2 linked regions of the Homo sapiens genome follow. The protein of the gene in region 1 binds, or shares a complex with, the protein of each later gene. Each region holds a gene or a part of one and is shown in the gene's direction. Other genes may lie near its edges.

The links.
Region 2: the proteins of MIS18BP1 (region 1) and PLK1 are in contact, whole or in part, in a crystal structure (PDB 8S31), measured with the Homo sapiens proteins. Residues at the interface, in NP_060823.3 of Homo sapiens: Asn73, Ile74, Phe75, Gln76, Ser77, Thr78, Met79, Leu80; in NP_005021.2 of Homo sapiens: Lys413, Trp414, Val415, Asp416, Tyr417, Asp419, Tyr485, Ser487, Glu488, His489, Leu490, Leu491, Arg516, Phe534, His538, Lys540.

What each region holds. Positions count from the first base shown.
Region 1 is NC_000014.9:45,220,813-45,231,270, reverse strand, and holds part of MIS18BP1 (mis18-binding protein 1), read left to right. Parts: coding exon 1-130; intron 131-3,456; coding exon 3,457-3,608; intron 3,609-4,434; coding exon 4,435-4,528; intron 4,529-6,524; coding exon 6,525-7,353; intron 7,354-10,458. UniProt on the Homo sapiens protein: Required for recruitment of CENPA to centromeres and normal chromosome segregation during mitosis.
Region 2 is NC_000016.10:23,673,163-23,683,658, forward strand, and holds the start of PLK1 (serine/threonine-protein kinase PLK1), read left to right. Parts: upstream 1-5,726; 5' UTR 5,727-5,770; coding exon 5,771-6,178; intron 6,179-6,921; coding exon 6,922-7,090; intron 7,091-7,751; coding exon 7,752-7,896; intron 7,897-8,901; coding exon 8,902-8,995; intron 8,996-10,496. UniProt on the Homo sapiens protein: Serine/threonine-protein kinase that performs several important functions throughout M phase of the cell cycle, including the regulation of centrosome maturation and spindle assembly, the removal of cohesins from chromosome arms, the inactivation of anaphase-promoting complex/cyclosome (APC/C) inhibitors, and the regulation of mitotic exit and cytokinesis.

The sequences.
Region 1 (10,458 bases):
AAACAAAAACAGAAAACTGGAAGATCTGTCCGTGACATAAGGAAATCAATGAAAAATGATGCACGAGAAAACCAAACAGATACTGCTCAAAGAGCCACCACCACTTACGATTTTGATTGTGATAATTTGGGTATGTTTTGTCTTTACTTCTCTGTTGGTACAGTGGTTAAGTTCTTACATGGTCTACATTGTTTATGGTTTATAATGTGTATAGTAGTAATGTGTATAGTATAGTATTCTTTGACTTATACTGCCCCCACATTCCTGCTTCTTCACTACTATATGAGAAGTAACTATAATACAGATTAATCATGGTCAGGATTCAGCTTGCTTCATCAAATACCACCTTTGCCTGGGCCCAGTGACTTATGCCTGTAATCCCAGCACTTTGGGAGGCTGAAGCGCAAGGATCGCTTGAGCTCAAGAGTTTGAGACCAGCCTGGATAACATGACGAGACCCTGTCTCTACTAAAAGTCAAAAAAATTAGCCACACATGGTAGTGCATGCTTGTGTTCCCATCTTCTTGAGAGGCTAAGGTGGGAGGATCGCTTGAGCTCAGATGGTTGAGGCTGTAATGAACCATGTTTGTGCTACAACACTCCAGTTTGGGCATCAGAGTGAGGCACTGTCTCAAAAAATAATAATAATAATAATTACCTTTTTATTAATCAGAATACCAAAGAACACTGGTAAACAAATTAATGAAAGATGATTGTTCTTTTAATTTCCTTGACCCAAAGTATTTAAGCTGCCAACCTACCGCAAACCTGTTGTAAAGACATATATTATTTTTGTACTAAATTTCATTCCTACGGATAGGCAAAATCTGTTTCCTTTCATGGAAGAAATGGAATTCAAGAAAATGCTTTTCTTGAATGACCATTGCTGTAACGACAGATTGCAGAACTGTTCTTTTTTTCCTCTCTCTTTTTTAATAAGGAGACCAACTTGCCAGAGCAGAACTGTTCTGTATCAGCTCTTTGCCAACACTATAATCTGCTTCACTTGTATAAAAATGTATGAACATTAACTTACAGCTCTTTCTAAACAATATAGATGAGTAAAAGTTACTAAAATATGTTGTAAACATTTCTGCTGATTTTGCCTTAAACTTGTAACTAAGAGCTTTACAGAACTTCCAAAACTTGAAAGAGTTCAGGAATCCTTCTGCCAAAAACATAGCACCATACTGGATATAAATGTACCTGTATCCTATTCTAACCACTCCCCAACCCGCATTTGAACTTCCACCCTTGAAACTTTGCTTATCCTTTCTAATGCAGAGAAAGGAATACGTTAAATATGTAGATGACTGCTTCCCCAGAGCTAGCAAAAAGTCACTTACCATTGCCCTAGTTCCTTCTCAACCCTTCCTCTTTTTATCAAAAGTCATCCTATTTTCTCTAAATTAGGCATATTGCCTATTTTTATTGCTGGAGCATCTTGAGTATGCTGGAACCTTGGGGCTTCGGCACCTGCTCTCTACTTTTTTACTCCTAAAACAAGAAAATCCTTGACAGTATATCTCACTTTTAATCATTTGTTGGTCTTTAGTCTTGGTTCTTACCTCTTCCTGTACCCCATTTCACTTAGAGCCAGCACTTATTAGGGATTTGATCTTAATTGCAAATATTATCAGTAAAGTGTTTAAGAAAGCTATTGACAAGAGAAATGAATACAAATTTAAAAGACTAAAGTTTGGTAAACTATTTTACATACCAGCTGTGTCCATAGGAAAATCACTCAGCAATTTTTTTTTTTTTTTTGAGACAGGGTCTTGCTCTGTCTCCCAGGCTGGAATATAGTGGTGCAATCATGGCTCACTGCAGCCTCAACCTCCTTGGTTCAAGCAATCCTCCCACCTCAGCCTCCAAAGTAGCTGGGACTACAGGCATACAGTACTGCACTTGGCTTGTTTTTTATTTCTTGTAGAGATGGGATCCTACTATGTTGCCAGGCTGGTCTCCTACTCCTGGCCTCAAGCAGTCCTCCCACCTTGGCCTCCCAAAGTGCTGGGATTATAGACATGAAACATGGCACCTGGTGTCAACATTTTTAAAGTGCTTTCCATGAACCCTGGTCTATTAAGTTTTAGGAACTTAGAGATGAATAAGGCATGATTCCCCCCACCCCCACCCCCAGGGATCTTGGTTTAGGGGCAAATATTAATATATTCTGTTATGATTGCATCATTTTTCTAGTGTAATTCATTAGATCTTTTCTTAATGAAACTGTTAGACACTATCTTCATATCACGTAAGTTATTTTGAGTGGTGGTTGGGGCTGTTATTAATTTTATTATTATCATTGCACTTTGCATGAAAAAAACAAAACCACATCTAACATTATATAGCTAAGGTTATGTAAAGGTACCAACCCATGTTAATTTAAGATAATGTAATTTTATGTATGTGTTTTAATGATTTGCCTAAAAAGTACTTGTGTATCATAGTATTGCTCTTAAAGCACTTTATCTCTGTTATTACACTTACCAGAGTATATGATAAATGACCTATCATAATAGAAGCTTCCTTCATTATATGGTAATATTTTCAAGAGCAAGGACTAGTCAGTACATCTTTAAAGAATAGCTTCTAGAAAAATAACAAAATGTTTTTATACTTTTTATGAATCTGTTTTAACTTACCTAGAATTCCAGCTTAGTAACTGTTTGTTGAGCATATATTATATACTGTATAATTTAGTTTTGCTCAAAATTTTAATTACAGAAATTTAGTTATACATTGGAGTACATAAACTAGTTGAAACATAATTCTACATACATGAAGAAATAGAAGAAGAACAGTTATTAGCTTTCTATTTAGTTGATGTGCAGTTAGGATGAACAGGAATTTTTATTTACAAAATGGATTAACCTTACTATTCTGTCTTTAGATGTGACAAAGGAGATCCAAAACAGATGGTCGTGAATAATATGGCTGTCTAGGCTTTTTAAATTTTTTTTGAAGGAAAAAAAGTGATTCAAACAAAATGTAGCGTAGCGCTATACAGAGTGATTCTTTCCAAATAAAATTGCTTTATATCCTAGTCAAATTATAACAAATATTTATGACAGAGGGATTAGACAGATTATCATTATTATTTCTGAGACAGGGTGTTGCTCTGTCACCCAGGCTGGAGTACAGTGGCACAATCACGGCTCACTGCAGCCTCGACCTCCCTGGCTCAAGTGATCCTCCCACCTCAGGCTCCCAAGTATCTGGGACCATAGGCTTGCACCAACCTTTTATTCTTTGTAGAATCAGTGTATCACTATTTTGCCTAGGCTAGTCTTGAACTCCTGGGCTCAAGCAATCCTCCTCCCTCGGCCTCCCAGAGTGCTGGGATTACAGGCGTGAGCCACCACACCTAGCGTCAAAGTTAATTCTTCATGTAGAAAAGCAGCTTCTCTTTTATATAACCATTTATTGAAATCTCCATCTTTGTATTCATAGAACTGAAGAGTAATAAGCACAGTGAGTCACCAGGAGCTACAGAATTAAACATGTGCCACAGTAATTGCCAAAATAAACCAACATTAAGGTTCCCAGATGACCAAGTAAATAATACTATTCAAAATGGAGGAGGAGATGACTTATCTAATCAGGTAAGGCTTTATTGTACACTGTATAGTTCAAGTTGATATTTAGAAGGGTGATTTACTACTGAAAAGGTTTGGGACCATATCAGGGACGTGAGTTCTGTTTTTTTTTTTTTTTTCTTTTGAGATGGAGTCTCCCTCTATTGCCCAGGCTGGAGTGCAGTGGCGTGATCTCGGCTTATTGCACCCTCTGCCTCCTGGGTTCAAGTGATTCTCCTGCCTCAACCTCCACCTCCTGGGTTCGAGTGATTCTCCTGCCTCAGCTTCCCGAGTAGCTGGGACTACAGGCATGCACCACCACGCCTGGCTAATTTTTGTATTTTTAGTAGTAACGGGGTTTCACCATATTGGCCAGGCTGGTCTCGAACTCCTGACCTTGTGATTCACCCACCTCTGCCTCCCAAAGTGCTGGGATTACAGTCGTGAGCCACTGCGCCCAGCCAAGAGTTCTGTTTTTCAAGTATCAGCTTTTCATTTACTTGGGGACTGAATGTCTTGATATTTATTTTCCCTGTCTCTCAATGAAAAAATGCAGGCAACAATAAAAGTTTTAGCTTTTAGAGTAAAGCTTAAATAAAGCATATTTTTAAAAGCACTTGAAAAACCACAAAGTATTAAATTAATGTAGAAAATATGTAGGATAATGGATTCCCAGATGTTGCTCGTAGTGCTCAAGGTCTGGCAAGTAAGTTTCGGAATGTGTCCACTAATGAAATTTGCGGAACTGTAAGTACCTAGAAATTTGTATGCTTGATGCATACTATGAAAATGCTTCAGATCATGTTTTGGTAGTAGTTTTAAAATAAAACCTAGGTATCTTTTTGTTTTGAAGGAATTAATTGGAAAAAAAGAATATAAAATGTCTTCAAAGAAACTAAAAATTGGTGAAAGAACAAATGAAAGGATAATAAAAAGTCAGAAGCAAGGTAATATATCTTTAATGGTTTTTTAATCATAAGCAGAAAGCTACTATGTGAAATGTTTTTAATATGATAAAAGTGATCTTGTAAATTTCCTCATGTAAAATGGCAAATTATTTAATGTTTTTAAATGTTTGGTTTTGTTATTTTTACATAAGATGATTTTCATAATAAAATAGCCCTTTTAAAAACCACCTATACTTACAGGTTTGCCTTCTTTAATCTGGGTACTAAAATATTTGTTTAGATCACAAAACTATATATCATTTAACATATGCTTACAGGAATGTGTAAAGAGTGAATCCTTTTATGAATTTAGTACAATAATTTAGTTTTAAGTGTGGATTTTCAGAGTGATTTAATTGGAATCCTGCATGCCATAATTTAGAGGCTTTCGTCTAAATGTTAGCAAGTTTACAATTTCATGTTGAGCTAAATCCATTAGCTTTATAGCATTTTTTTGTGTTTTATTTCCTCTTATAAGTGAAAAGAAGTGAAAGTGAAGAACATTTATTTGTTTGAAGAAGATAGGAAAGCAGTGCTACTTATACTTCCGAGTTCATATTCGGTTTAAGTATCCAAGATAGCTGGATCTTTATTAAATAATTTATTAAAATTAACAAATACTCTGAATGGAAATATTGTTCAAAATTATAATGTTGAAAATTTTCAAATTCCCAGGTAAACATTTGAATTGGATTTATATGAGGAGTTAGAAGAAAATACTTTTCTCATAATTTGAAGATATATGATGCCAGTGGAAAATCTTGTAGACACTTTCTAAATTATTTTGATTATTACCTTTTTCCACGGATTGTAATTTAGAGGCTTCTTTTCTCCCCAGCATTCAATATTATCTATCAGTCTCATTCTGTCAGTCATCTTGTAAACAATGGCACATAATATGTGGAGGTGGTTGTAATATGTTTCTATGACAGTGGGATGATTTGCAGTTTATATGTATTTCTAATTACAGTTGGATAGTTTCAGTTAGTTTGACTTCTCATTACTTAGGTTTTGAATTGGTGAATTGTTCTCATTTTAATTTGCTTTCTTTAGTGACAAGATATAAGATTCTCAGGTTGTTCTCTTTTGCTTGTTTTGTACTTCATGGTGTTTGGGGGGATTCATTTTGAGTGTGTTTCTATGACCACCATTGGCAATGAAAGTGGAACCATGCAGATGGAGTTCCATGTCCTCCTAACTAGCACAGCTCATATAATACTTAGTAAGGTTTCAGTGACTACTGGTTTTCTTATATCTTCTGAATATTTTACCTCCAGGGCTTTGATTTAACAAGTATTTACTTATTGCCTACTGTATATGTGAAAGGCTCTGTACTAACTCCAGCAAAAAAAAAAATCAAACCATACAGATAAAGTTCTAACCATTAATTATTTTTTCCAGTCTGATTGAAAGACAAGTGTGCAATTATAATACATGTCTCACTGTCAAACATGGCATTATTTAAAGTATTCTGGAAACTTGAAGGAGAGCTTTCATTCAGTGTAGGGAATGTGTACAAGTTTGTACACTAGGTGGGTTAGAGAATAAAATCGAAGCAGGTAGTGATTTTGTTTATAGATGAATGAAGAACATCTTCAAAGCAGAGTGGACAACATTATTAAAAGTGGAGAACCAAGAAAATCTGAGAAATAGCAAGTGGTGTGGTTCTGAACATAGAATATAGTTGAGATTTTGACAACAGTGAGAGATTGGAACTATGTGGAAGGCCAGGCAGAGGAGCTTATTTATATGTCTACTAAAAGACTGTGAGAAGTCACTGTCAGGTTTGTATAAACAATAGTATATGTTTACAGTTGAAGGGGCAGTGGTCTGAATAGACCTGGGCTTCAGAAAGATTAATATGACAGGTGGGTATACAGTGTAGCTCGTGGATAAAAATAGTATCTTTTATTTGTGAAAATATATTTTCTGTGCTTATATTTGTTTATAGCTAATTTGAGATTTTGGTCTTTGGTTTTGTCTTATGAAATTAAAGAGACAACTGAAGAATTGGATGTATCCATTGATATTCTAACCTCAAGGGAACAGTTTTTCTCAGATGAAGAAAGAAAATACATGGCCATCAATCAGAAGAAAGCTTATATTTTAGTAACACCACTTAAATCTAGAAAAGTGATAGAGCAAAGATGCATGAGGTATAATCTGTCCGCTGGCACCATCAAAGCAGTAACAGATTTTGTAATACCAGAGTGTCAAAAAAAAAGTCCCATCAGCAAGTCCATGGGGACTTTAGAAAATACATTTGAAGGTCATAAAAGTAAAAACAAGGAAGATTGCGATGAACGTGACTTACTTACTGTCAACCGGAAAATAAAAATATCTAACCTTGAAAAGGAACAAATGCTCACCTCTGACTTTAAGAAAAATACCAGACTATTACCAAAATTGAAGAAAATAGAAAATCAGGTAGCTATGTCATTTTATAAGCATCAGTCCTCACCAGATTTGTCAAGTGAAGAAAGTGAAACAGAAAAGGAAATTAAAAGGAAAGCTGAAGTTAAGAAAACCAAAGCAGGAAACACCAAAGAAGCAGTGGTTCACCTGAGAAAGAGCACAAGAAACACAAGTAATATTCCAGTGATTTTGGAACCTGAAACTGAAGAAAGTGAAAATGAATTTTATATCAAACAAAAGAAAGCTAGACCTTCCGTCAAAGAAACTCTTCAGAAGTCTGGTGTTAGGAAAGAGTTTCCAATTACTGAGGCAGTAGGATCTGATAAGACAAATAGGCATCCCTTAGAATGCTTACCTGGTTTAATTCAGGATAAGGAATGGAATGAGAAGGAGTTACAGAAACTTCATTGGTAAGTAGTTAGATTTCATTCCGAAATATCTACAGAGCAGCCACAAGACAGTTAAAGACATAAAAATAGCAATAAGGGGTTAACATGGAAGATGTCATTAAAAAAAAGGGAGAAATTATAATTTGCACAGGGAATGGAGATAGACTACACATAACTCCTAGTGGTATTTTTGTGGTCATCTCTAATACGAGGAAAGTACGAGGAAAGCCTAAGTATGAGGAAAGTAAAAGTGACCTTTTCATTCCCATGTAATATTTCAAGATAGCCAAATAGTACTCTCTCACGTAGCTTCATATTTTAAGAAATGCATTTTTTTGTTTTTTGTTTTGTTTTGTTTTGATTGAGACGGAGTCTCGCCCTGCTGCCCCGTCTGGAGTGCAATGCCACAATCCCGGTTACTGCAACCTCTGCCTCCCGGGTTCAAGCGATTCTCCTGCCTCAGCCTCCTGAGTAGCTGGGACTACAGGCGCACGCTGCCACGCCTGGCTAATTTTTATATTTTTAGTAGAGATGAGGTTTCACCATGTTGGTCAGGCTGGTCTTGAACTCCTGACCTAATGATCCGCCCACCTTGGCTTCCCAAAGTGCTGGGATTATAGGCATAAGCCACCGTGCCCGGCCTAACAAGTGTTATAAATAGTAAAGTTTGGTGCCCCACAAGTGAGACTCAAGGATACTAGAAACCTAGAAGTGGGCACTGAAGGGTAACAAAGAGAGTTTAAAGAGGAGCTCTCCAGTTCTGGGTTGAGGAGCAGAAAGGGGGACTTCTGACACTCAGAAACAGTAGAGGAAATCCCCAGTGTTTGGTTTGGTTTGTTTTTGTTTTGTTTTGTTTTGTTTTGTTTTGTTTTTGTCTTTTCTCTTAACTCAGTCCCCATGCAATCCTGCAGGGGCTACAGTCACAGCATCAGCTGGGGCTGAGATATATCTAAAACTCTGAGAGATGAGAACCTTCTCTACAATTAGGAATGGTTGCCTCAAAGTAGTGGGGCAAGTACCTGTTGCTTCTGTTCTCTTTCTGTTGTCTGTTGCTTGGTACTGGACAAAAATTCAGTTGTGTGAGGCATACAGCAGAGCAGAGTAATAAAAGCCCCAGCTTTCTGGCCAGAGCACTGACAAGGGAAACTCCAGGGAACCAGAAATCGCGGAAAGAGAGGAAGTAGGAAAAGCAACCCCATAAAGTTGTTTATGAACTTCTATGCCACCCAGGAGTTGTACATATGTGGACATGGTCCTAAAGAGCATATAAAAGACTGAGAACTGAACTAAACAGTAGACCACACCCAGTTTCTAGGCTAGCTACTCAGTGTCCCACACACAGGAAGATCCTAACAGCACTGCAGAGCTTTGAAAAATGAAACTGACATTGAAACAACAATGATAGTAGACTGAACGTATAGCTTGGGATACCACCAGGTTGATGACCTGCTAAAATAAAAATATTAACATTTCACTTGAAGCAGTAAAATATTGATTCTAAGTAGACTGTTGAAGTTAAGTATATTTAATGTCATCCCTAGAGCAACTTCTAAAAAAACTATACAAAGAAATAATTTCAAACATAAATTAAAATACTGGAAAATCAAATAGCCCAAAAGAAGGCAAAGAAGAAGAGAAGTGGAGGATTTTTTTACATGGAACAAGCAGAAAACAAATAATAAAATTATTGACCTAAATCCAACATAATTAAATTAAATGGTCTAAACATACCAATTAAAAGACATATTGTCAGAATGAATTTAAAAACATGATCTAACTATATGCTGTATACAACAAACTCACTTTAAATATAATGATATAGGTAGGTTAAAAGGATAGAAAAATACCGTCTAAACACAAATCAAAAGAAAGCTTGAGTGGCTATATTAATATCTGTCAAAATAGACTTTAGTAGGAAGAAAATAACCAGGAATAAAGAAAGACATTACAAATGATAGAAGGGTCAGTCACCAGGAAGGCATGAAATTCCTAAGTGTGTATGCACCTGACAATAAAACCTCAAAATACATGAGTTAAAAACTGACAAGTGAAAGCAGCGGACTAAACTACAAGGATAGTCAAATCCACAGTTATAGGAAACCACACTGCTCCTCTCTTGGTATTTGATAGAACTGACTGAAAATTAGCAGGGATATAGAACTGAACAACACCATCAGTCATTCGTATGATTCACATTTACAGAACATTCCACCCAATAATAAGAAAAAGAATAGGTTATTTCCAAGGATAGGTTGATCATTCATCAAGATAGATCATAAAACCTCTTAACAGATTTAAAATAGCTGAAATCATACAAAGCATATTCTCTGATGATAATTGAATTAAACTACAAATCAATAAAATAAAGATAGGAAAATTTCCAAGTGGTTGAAAATTAAATAACTTATTAATACGTATAACTAATCTGTGGGTCAAAGAAGAAGACTTAAAGGAAAGTAGAAAATATTCTTTTATTTTATTTTATTTTATTTATTTATTTTTGAGACGGAGTCTTGCTCTGTCGCCCAGGCTGGAGTGAAGTGGCGCGATCTCTGCTCACTGCAAGCTCCACCTCCCAGGTTCACACCATTCTCCTGCCTCAGCCTCCCGAGTAGCTGGGACTACAGGCGCCCGCGACCACGCCGGCTAATTTTTTGTATTTTCAGTAGAGACGGGGTTTCACCGTGTTAGCCAGGATGGTCTCGATCTCCTGACCTCGTGATCCTCCCGCCTTGGCCTCCCAAAGTGCTGGGATTACAGGCTTGAGCCACCGCGCCCGGCTTCTTTTATTTTTTTTCTTTTTGGAGACAGAGTCTCACTCTGTCACCCAGGCTAGAGTGCAGTGGTACGATCTCAGCTCACTGCAACCTCCGCCTCCTGGGTTTAAGCAATTCTCCTGCCTCAGCCTCCCAAGTAGCTGGGATTACAGGTGTGTGCCACCATATCCAGCTAGTTTTTGTATTTTTAGTGGAGTTAAGGTTTCACCATGTTGGCCAGGCTGGTCTCGAACTCCTGACCTCAAGTGATTCACCTGCCTTGGCCTCCCAAAATGCTAGGATTACAGGTGTGAGCCACCAGCCCGGCCAGATATTCTTAACTGAACAAAAATGAAAATATATCAAAATT
Region 2 (10,496 bases), on another chromosome or scaffold:
AAATTCCATGTTGACAAGGATGGGAATATGAGAACATGGAAACAGCTATGAAAAGACATAAGAGAATTAGGAGGATTTTCTTTAATATATCATTTTTTAAAAAAAAACTTGCTTGTATTTGTTTATTTTTTAAATAGAGACAGGGTTTTACCATGTTGCCCAGACTAGTCTTGAACTCCTGGGCTCAAGCGATCTTGGCCTCCCTAAGTGCTGGGATTACAGTCATGAGCCACTGTGCCCCGCCATTTTTTAATAAACCTTTCTAATGGAACAAGTAAAACACATGCAGTGGATGCTCAGCAGGCCTTGAGTGTGTGAATGAAAAATATTTGAACTTGTTTTTACTGGTTGATTTCATTGCTTAAAAAACATACCTTAGCTGGACGCAGTGGCGTGCGCCTGTAGTCCCAGCTACTCATCTCTTAAAAAAAAAGTTTTATGCTTGTTAATTTCATAAATGCTAGAGGGATCACCCTAATCAAATAAAGCTACTCAAAAATAAAATATGAAAGGTGTTAGTGGGATACAGCTTTCTAGTTTTTTGCCACTAGTGGATAGGTTGGAATTTAAATTCTTCGGATATTGGAACCAGAACAGGCTGTAACTGATTATTTTTGCTGTGATTCGTGCTTACTGGAGCCTCGGGAAAGAGGGAGACAACATGTAAAGAGAAGCAATCTGTTTGGAAAATGAAAATACAGTTAAATTGCTAATGAACCCTTGTCAAAATCAAATGTCTCCCCTTAGAGGCTGATGATTGTCTAGTCTAATATGCATTTTTTTTGAGTGGGTCAATTGGACTCTAAGACCAACAAGATAAAAAGGCAGCCTTGCATGTCACTTGGACCACAGCTGTCTGGCCATGCAGCATGCCTTCACTGCTGCTGAAGAAAAGCAGCTGCTTGTTGAGAATCTCAAATTCTCAGATCCTAATTGCCTGGCCCTGACTCTAAGCTGAAACCTGCTACTGTCTGCCTTGAGCTGTTTTAGCCTCAACACGAGCTATGCTGAACTGAAAGCAGGCACAGGCTCAATGACCAGGACTCAGACGTTGGGGCCGTTGGAGATTAAGGACCCCCTCCGTGGAGCGCTAAACTATGAAAACGTCCTGGAACCTGGCTGAAAAGGGCTTATTCTCTAATGGGACCATCTAAGATCAAGCTGCTGATAGGCTCTTTGTCTCTAATACAGAGGCTAATTGCATTCCTAACTTCTAATATTTGCCAAACGCTCCAAGCTGGGGAAGGGCACATCGCAAGGACTATGACCTCTCCTCCTGCTTTTGACAGACCAGACTCAAACCTTCTCTGGGGCTTCTCTCACTGCTGTTGACTTGTTGCATTCAGCTTTTGGGATTAGTTGCAGCTTGCAACAGTGGACTGACAGCCTGACTCTACTTCCCTCACTTTTCTCCCAGCACACACAGCTTAGTAAGGTAGGTGGATTATTAAAACGTAGCTGTCCCCAGAAAGGTATTAGGCTTTTCTAGTCTGCTCATTGAATAATCAGGACAAAAGGGGTAGAAGATTATGTAAACACATTTTGAAATTTTTAAAAATTCAGGGTTTCATCCTTTATTAGTTTGCTAAGGATACCATAACAAAGTACCACAAACTGAGTGACTTACACAATAGAAACTTATTTTCCTGCAGTTCTGGAGGCTGAAAGTCCAGGACAAGGTGTCGACAGCTTTAGATTCTTCTGAGGCCTCTCTGCTTGGCTTGCAGATGGCTGCCTTCTTACTGTGTCCTTGTATGGTCCCTCTGTCTGGGTGTCTGTGTCCTAATCTTCTCTTTTAATAAGGATACCACTCAGGTTGGATTAGGGCCCATCCTAACAATCCCATTTTAACTTAGTTACCTCTTCAGGGCCTATCTTCAAATATACTCACATTTTGAGGTACAGGTAGATGGTTAGGGCTTCAGCATGAATTTTTGTGGGGACATAATTCAACCCTCCACACATAATTACCAATTTCTGAATGTCTTTCTGGTTAAGTTGCATAAAAACGTTTATCTACTTGAACTCTAGGATGATAGTTAAAAAAAAAAATGTTGGCCAGGCGCAGTGATGGATGCATATGATCCCAGCACTTTGGGAGGCCGAGGTGGGCAGATTGCTTGAGTTCAGGAGTTCAAGACCAGCCTGGCAACATGGTGAAATCCTGTGTCTACAAAAAATGCAAAAATTAGCTGGACATGATGGCATGTGCCTTTGGTTCCAGCTACTTAGGAGGCTGAGGTAGGAGGATGGCTTGAGCCCAGGAGGCGGAGGTTGCAGTGAGCCAAAATCGTGCCACCGCACTCTAGCCTGGGCAACAGAGCCAGACCATATCTCAAAAAAAAAAAAAAAAAAGTTTATCTACAAAAATGCTTTTGTGCCTCTTACATACAACCCTTCCAGAGGAAAGGCCTAGCTGAGAGTAAGAGATGGTTGAAAAAATGCAATGTTATGATTGCTGAACAGGGCACGACTGTTTTTGTAATATTGGAGAAAATAATTAAAGCCTGGCACCTGGGGAGGCTTGATCCCTGGAAGCCTCCTCTTGCTGAAGGAAAATTCCCAGTGCTGCCTTTCCATGTGCTGTGAGTGCTTTGAGTTCAGACTGACAACAGAGTGGGTCTAGCTTCTATGCTTTCCATGAAGATCTCCCACAAATGTCATCCATGCTCATGAGATGGATCAACTTGTATCCTGAACAAGCAAAACTGTTTGGGACTCACTGCCTTCAGGCAGTCCCTTGGAAGCCAAGGACTCTGGGAACTTTTCAGATGGGACTGGAAACACTTGGGCAGGAGTTCCCCTGGTAGGAGGTCTGTTCACCTGTACAGCCTAATGGATGTCCTGCTTGAGGTGCCCTAATATTGCAAATTCTTTGTTTACAGGGGTACCACCTGTGCCCCTGGGACTGTGCTTCTGTACATGACCACAACTCTCATGATGTCCCCTCAGCCCTGGAAAGCATTTGGGTTAGCTTCCGCTTACTGGTCAGAGTTATACTGTGCCTGAATTGATGCCTCAGGTCAGGTTGAAAAAAAAAAAAAAGGTTCAGACAGCAATTAAGGGCTGGGCACGGTGGCTCATGCCTGTAATCCCGGCACTTTGGGAGGCTGAGGTGGGCAGATCACCTGAGGTCAGGAGTTTGAGACCAGCCTGACCGACATGGTGAAAAGTAAAAATACAAAAATAAAAAAATTAGCTGGGTGTGGTGGTGTGCACCTGTAGTCCCTACAAAAATAAAAAAATTAGCTGGGTGTGGTGGTGTGCACCTGTAGTCCCAGCTACTCGGGAGGCTGAGGCAGGAGAATCGCTTGAACCCAGGAGGTGGAGGCTGCAGTGAGCCAAGATCACGCCACTGCACTCCAGCCTGGGTGACAGAGCAAGACTCCATCTCAACAACAACAACAAAAAGGAATTAAGGAGGAAGCCACCTGGCTTCCTAAGATAGACTTTATGGTTAATGGGATTTATTTTAGCTGGTTAAGTCCAGGACCCCTACCAGGAAGAACTGAGGTCCATATTTGAGGTTGGTCTCACCCTTTTGCATGTGGTCCTACTAATAATAATTTTGCTGTAAAGAAGCCTCAATAAGGAGATGGACTGTGTGAAAAGAGATGAGAAAGCAGGCCTGTTTGCAAGGCTGGCCCTTGGCTGGCATCTGAAAGCTTGGATTTCAGGAGGGTTCTCATTACTCCCTAAATGATAAGAGTGGCTCACTGTGCCTAAACTGTTCGTACAAACAATGTGGGTTATGCCCAACATCTGCTTTCCTTCTGGGAGTCAGATTTTCATATGTGTTAGGCAGAGGATGAGGTGAGCAGCTCCCAATGAGAACCCTGAACACTGAGTCTGTAATGAGCTTCCCTTGTATACAACATTGCACATGGGTTGTCACAACTGATTGCTGGAGGAATTGTGTCCTATGTGACTCTGCTGGGAGAGGACTGTGGGAGGCTTACACCTGGTTTCCCTGGACTTTGTCCATGCGCTTTTTTCCTTTGCTGATTTTGCTTCCTAGCCTTTCGCTGTAGTAAAACATAGCCATGAGTATGACTACAGGCTGAGTCTGTGAATCTCCTAGTACATCATCAGACTAGGAGGTGGTGGTGTTGGCACCCCCCAGCACAGGGCACAAGGGAGACTTGCAGGGTGTTTGTCATGTTCCCTTTCTCAATCTGGGTGTGGTTTACAGATTTGTTCAGTTTGTGAAAATTCACTGAGCTCTATGAACAATTATAATATGTACATTTTTTTCTGTAAGTGTATTAAATTTCAATAAAAAGAATTCACACTATAGGGGTACAAAATAACTTAATTTTTCAAAGTCTTCCTTTTATTCAGCCAACATTTTAGTAAGTACCCTTTTTTTTTTACCAAGCACTGCTCTGGGAGCTTGGGACATGGGGTAGAAAGGACGGCATCATTGTCCTCATTGTCCTTCAGCTTAGCTGCAAGGCAGGTGAAGGATGCTTATAGTATGGTTGATTTTTGCTGGGCTCTATGAAGGATCAGAGGGTGCTAAGGAGGCACAGAGAAAGAGCTTTTAACGTGGGTATTTTACTGTTCCAGGGTTGCCACTCAAGTACCTACAGAACAAACGGGTGTAGCTGTAAACTGTGGCAAACTGAAAGCATGTAGGCACAGAGTAAGTAGCTAGAGCTGATTTTTTTCAGGAAAGGCCACAAATCCCAACTTTTATGAGCTCCTCTTTTAAATGCTGTAAATGTTTTACAATGGCGGGGCGCGGTGGCTCACGCCTGTAATCCCAGCATTTGGGAGGCCGAGGGGCAGATCACTTGAGGTCAGGAGTTCAAGACCAGCCTGGCCAACATGGTGAAACCTCTTCTCTACTAAAATTACAAAAATTAGCCGGGCATGGTGGTGCATGCTTGTAATTCCAGCTGCTAGGGAGGCCGAGGCGGGAGGATTGCTTGAACCCGGGAAGCAGAGGTTGCAGTGAGCTGAGATCGTGCCACTGCACTCCAGCCTGGGCGACAGAGCAAGATTCCGTCACACACACAAAAAAAAGGCGTGGGGGGAGGCCAAACAAAACCCCGCAAGACACATTTGGCTATGACCTGCCAGTTTGCTAGGCATTCTTCCAACCTTCCCTCCCTCTGACCAAGAAACTGAGTGTCCACTATTTTAGGCCCTGGGAAATTCAGTAGCGAGGAGGCCAGACAGCTTCGTTGCATCATGGGGGGCTCTGGTACTGTGCTTCTCCAACTTCAGGATGTGTAGGAATCACCTGAGCAGTCTTGTTGAGAGGCGGACACTGACTCGGGAGGTCTGGGGTAGGGCCTGAACGTTTGCCTTTGCGGTTCTAACAAGCTCTCAGGTGATGGCGATGCTACTGTTCCCTGGCCCCGAGGTAGAGGAAGATTTAAGTAAAAGCTTCCTGGAGGAGGCGCAAGTGAACCGCAGGAGCTTTCCCGGACGCCCGAGAAAGGGAGAAACCCCGAAGGAATTCCTCCTCTCTCGGGGCTGGGTCTCCGCATCCACGCCGGGTTTGGTTTCCCAGGCTATCCCACGTGTTCGGGCGTCCGTGTCAATCAGGTTTTCCCCGGCTGGGTCCGGGTTTAAAGGCTGCTGCTGCGCAGGGCGCTCCCATGGTGCCGCGCGGCGGGCGGGTTTGGATTTTAAATCCCCGCGGCCAATCAGTGGCGCGCAGGCTTTTGTAACGTTCCCAGCGCCGCGTTTGAATTCGGGGAGGAGCGGAGCGGTGCGGAGGCTCTGCTCGGATCGAGGTCTGCAGCGCAGCTTCGGGAGCATGAGTGCTGCAGTGACTGCAGGGAAGCTGGCACGGGCACCGGCCGACCCTGGGAAAGCCGGGGTCCCCGGAGTTGCAGCTCCCGGAGCTCCGGCGGCGGCTCCACCGGCGAAAGAGATCCCGGAGGTCCTAGTGGACCCACGCAGCCGGCGGCGCTATGTGCGGGGCCGCTTTTTGGGCAAGGGCGGCTTTGCCAAGTGCTTCGAGATCTCGGACGCGGACACCAAGGAGGTGTTCGCGGGCAAGATTGTGCCTAAGTCTCTGCTGCTCAAGCCGCACCAGAGGGAGAAGATGTCCATGGAAATATCCATTCACCGCAGCCTCGCCCACCAGCACGTCGTAGGATTCCACGGCTTTTTCGAGGACAACGACTTCGTGTTCGTGGTGTTGGAGCTCTGCCGCCGGAGGGTGAGTGTCGCTGCTGGGGAACTGGAACTGCCTGCGGGGCAGTTGGAGCGCCCAGACCTGGAGCTGCTGGAAAGAGTACCCAGCAAGGGAGAGCCTGGGACTTGGAGCTGCTAGAGAAGGGTGCTGGGAGCCTCCCGCTTACGTATGGAAAGTGTCTTTGGTAAGGGCTTCTTGGCTCTGGGAGCTGCTAGAGGAGGGGGTTCCAGTGAAGTGGAGTCTGAGTCATGTTGCTGATAGGGAAGTCAGCTTCTGGACGCGAGGTGCTGGGGGGAGGGGTGCTGGTAATGGACGCTAGGGCCCTGGAGTACCCAGGGAGGAGTCCCAGGTTAGTGATGCCGCGCCCTGGGAGCTTCTGGGGTGGAGCTGGGTCAGTGGGGGGGTAGTTGGAGCCAGACTTCGGGCCTTCCGGGGGAGATACGAGTCAGGAAAGGGATCTGGTGCTGGGGACTCGGAGCTTCCGGAGTGGGGCTGAGAGAGGACCCCCAGGTAAGGGGGGAAGCTAGTAGGAGAAGGGGTGCTGCGAATGGTTGTGGACAGTGTTAAGGCAGGGTCCAGATGCCGCTGTGCTGGAGAAGGAATGGGGTGGGGGCATAGGGAAGGAGAGAAACCCACCAAGACCCCTCTTTCATCCCTTGGGAGTCCAGAGTCCAGTCCTGTGCTTCCTTTGCCTGGTAACCCTCTCCCTTCCCCACCGGCCTCAATCCACCTCCCCATCCCTCCTGCCCTCTCCTTCCCACCCACAGTCTCTCCTGGAGCTGCACAAGAGGAGGAAAGCCCTGACTGAGCCTGAGGCCCGATACTACCTACGGCAAATTGTGCTTGGCTGCCAGTACCTGCACCGAAACCGAGTTATTCATCGAGACCTCAAGCTGGGCAACCTTTTCCTGAATGAAGATCTGGAGGTGAAAATAGGTGAGTTGCTGAGCCTGCAGGGGTGCTTGACATCACTACAAGAGGCTGGAATTTGGAGGAGGCTGGGAGAAAGGAAGGAGACAACCCACAAGTCAGTATCTTGCCTACAGATGCATTATTTTTTTGTGCCCCAATGCAATATTTTTTTTTTACAAAGAATTTGAATTTGTTTTTATTTTTTAAATTGGAAGGTTTGATTGAACAAAAAGTTTGATTCAGAACTCCTTTTAAACAGGTGAAAGCTTCAGTAATACGAGGACAGCATTTTCTTAGGGCAGCCCTTTGCTGGGCTGGAAAACAGCTGTCCCCTTCAGACTTCTTTGCCACAGTCTCTACTCCTCCCTATTCTTCACAGACTTGCCAAGTCTTGGAGGTTAACTTGCTTGATCCTTGAAGGCATTGGAGTTTTACTATCCCTGTCAGTTCCTGTTTCAAAGCATAGCCCCTTTCTAAAAGGAGGGGTGAGAAGTGTCACTGGAGGCACCTCCCTGGTGTCAGCATGGGAGGAAGATTCCTGGGCAAGCCTTGCTACATACAAGGAGCAGAGGCTTGTGGGATCAGATGGCCCTGGTTCTGGATGGTCAAACCTTAACTAGCCTTCTGCATTGACAGATGTCAGAGGCTGGCATCTAAGTACCAACTCTTCCTCCCTCTGTCCCAGGGGATTTTGGACTGGCAACCAAAGTCGAATATGACGGGGAGAGGAAGAAGACCCTGTGTGGGACTCCTAATTACATAGCTCCCGAGGTGCTGAGCAAGAAAGGGCACAGTTTCGAGGTGGATGTGTGGTCCATTGGGTGTATCATGTAAGTTGGGAGTTGTCTCTGGACCAACCTGGTCTCAGCAGGGGCAACTTTGGGACATCCTACCTGGCTGACCTTTTCTGTGGACCTTTCGGCCTGCTTTACAGAAAGCCTACTCCAAGGGACAAGTCATCCCCAAACAAAGCCTAATTGTCATATCTTTCCCTGTCACTGGTGTATCCTGTCGGATTTCTGCAGCCTAGGTCATGGGTACAGCGGAGGAGGAGGAGGGAGAGTCTCCACAACCTTACTGTAGTCCTTTGCTAGAGTTGTCCACAGGGCAGCATCACCATCATCTGGGAACTTGTATACACAATCTCAGGACCCAGACTACTTACTGGATCAGAATCTGGATTTTTAACAAGGTCCCTTGGTGATTCCCTTGCACAATAAGGTCTTAAACACCGATGAGCATTAGCATGGTGGGGGAAATTAGGCCAGGAGTTACAGATGGAAAGATGATGTGCCAGTGGTCTGTCTGGATTAAGACCATCAGCAGCGGTTGGTGGCAGGCAGAGGCTTGGGCCTTTTCAGGTGTTATCTTTCTTGTTTTGGGCCTAGGTACTGGAGAGTTAGAAATGAGTTGTAGCAATGGCTTTCATACGTCTTTGCAGTGGGGTTTTTTCAAATGAAAACTTGAAGACTTAAGTACAGAACTGCTAAAGGTGGAGCTGCTTCTGTAAGCGCAGGTAGCCCTTTGACCTGTTTTGCATGACAGGCAGCATCTGAGGCCCTTGCACAGAGTCCTAGATGACCACAGGCTATAGCTAAAAAATCACTGGCCCTTAAGAATCCTGGTCTCACCATGTGTATTCTGCTGAGGGCTTATTCTAGCCAATGTCATGGCTTCTGGGGCTGCTCAGTGGACTTAGGGATTGTCTTCAGGGGCCCCAGAGTTAGAGTGAGTGTCCAGAGGATGCCTGACCTTTGTTCTGACCCTGAGATGATTTCTCTCATGTCTGGGTTGTGGCTGGGAGACTGGTGCCAAATCCTACCTTGTGCTTACAGGTATACCTTGTTAGTGGGCAAACCACCTTTTGAGACTTCTTGCCTAAAAGAGACCTACCTCCGGATCAAGAAGAATGAATACAGTATTCCCAAGGTGACTAATGATGCTTTAAGTTTACATTTATTTTGTTTTCCCCAGAAGCTGTTTATGGAGCCCAGCAATATCCTAGGACCAGAAATAGGTCTATCCCACCTCTAAGGTAGCCACAGAGCTTGAGAGGGCCTGTGTCTGAAATTGCATACAGAACTTGACATGTATGTGCACATAAGCATTTTTTCTAGGGGGAGAGAGTTGGCAGATTCTCAAGAGATTGGGTAACCCAAAAGTTGTGTAAAAAGCAAAAAACAAAGGAGGTAGGAAGGAGTAGGAGGCAAAAGTGCTTAATCTTTAGAAATGGTTTATCTTAATTCAAATGGATTCTGCCACTTAGCGAGATCACATTGGGCAAATGGCCTGCATCTTTTTTTTTTTTTTTTTTATTTGAGGTGGAGTTTTGCTCTTGTTGCCCAGTGCAGTGGCATGATCTTGACTCACTGCAACCTCCACCTCCCAGGTTCAAGCGATTCTCCTGCCTCAGCCTCCCAAGTAGCTGGGATTACAGGCACCCACCACCTCGCCTGGCTTTTTTTTTTTTTTTTTGTATTTTTAGTAGAGACGGGGTTTCACCATGTTGGCCAGGCTGGTCTCGAACTCCTGACCTCAGGTGATCCACCCGCCTTGGCCTCCCAAAGTGCTGGGATTACAGGCGTGAGCCACCATACCCAGCCTGGCCTGCATCTTCTGAACCATAGTTTCCATATATAAAGTGGAGTTCCTGCCTTGGAGCACCTCACAGAGTGCCTTGCATGTGGTGAGTGCTCTCAGAATTATGAATCACTGTGAATCCCAGGGCTTCCTAATGGCATAGTTGTGTGCATTTTCTTTTTTTTTTTTTTTTTTTTTTTGAGATGGAGTCTCGCTCTGTCGCCCAGGCTGGAATGCAGTGGTACAATCTCGGCTCACTGCAAGCTCTGCCTCCCAGGTTCATGGCATTCTCCCGCCTCAGCCTCCTGAGTAGCTGGAACTACAGGCACCAGCCACCATGCCCGGCTTCTTTTTTCTGTATTTGTGGTAGAGACAGGGTTTGACCGTGTTAGCCAGGATGGTCTCGATCTCCTGACCTTGTGATCCACCTGCTTCGGACTCCCTAAGTGCTGAGATTACAGGCGTGAGCCACCGCGCCCGGCCATGGTGTGCATTTTCACAACCACCAACAGAAATACATTTAAAGGAATAGCTGGTTCCTGCAGAAGCCTAGCACACAGCCAGTTTGAAGTGTAGTGTCCTTGTGTGAAGCCAGGAGGCCTGTCACCATAAGGACAGACATAGTAAATCCATCACAAAGTGTCAGTTCACTGTCAGAGACAGCATGGAATCAAGCCAGCTAGACAAGGCCTTCACCCTCTCTGTGCCTCACTTTCCTCCTCTGTGAAAAAGGGATGATAATAGATCCCCACCCCTTAGATGAGTTGGTGAGGGCTAAGTGAGCTAAACACAGGAGTGCTTAGAATGCTTTCCTGGCACATAGTGAGTGCTAGGAAAGTGAGTTGGTGTT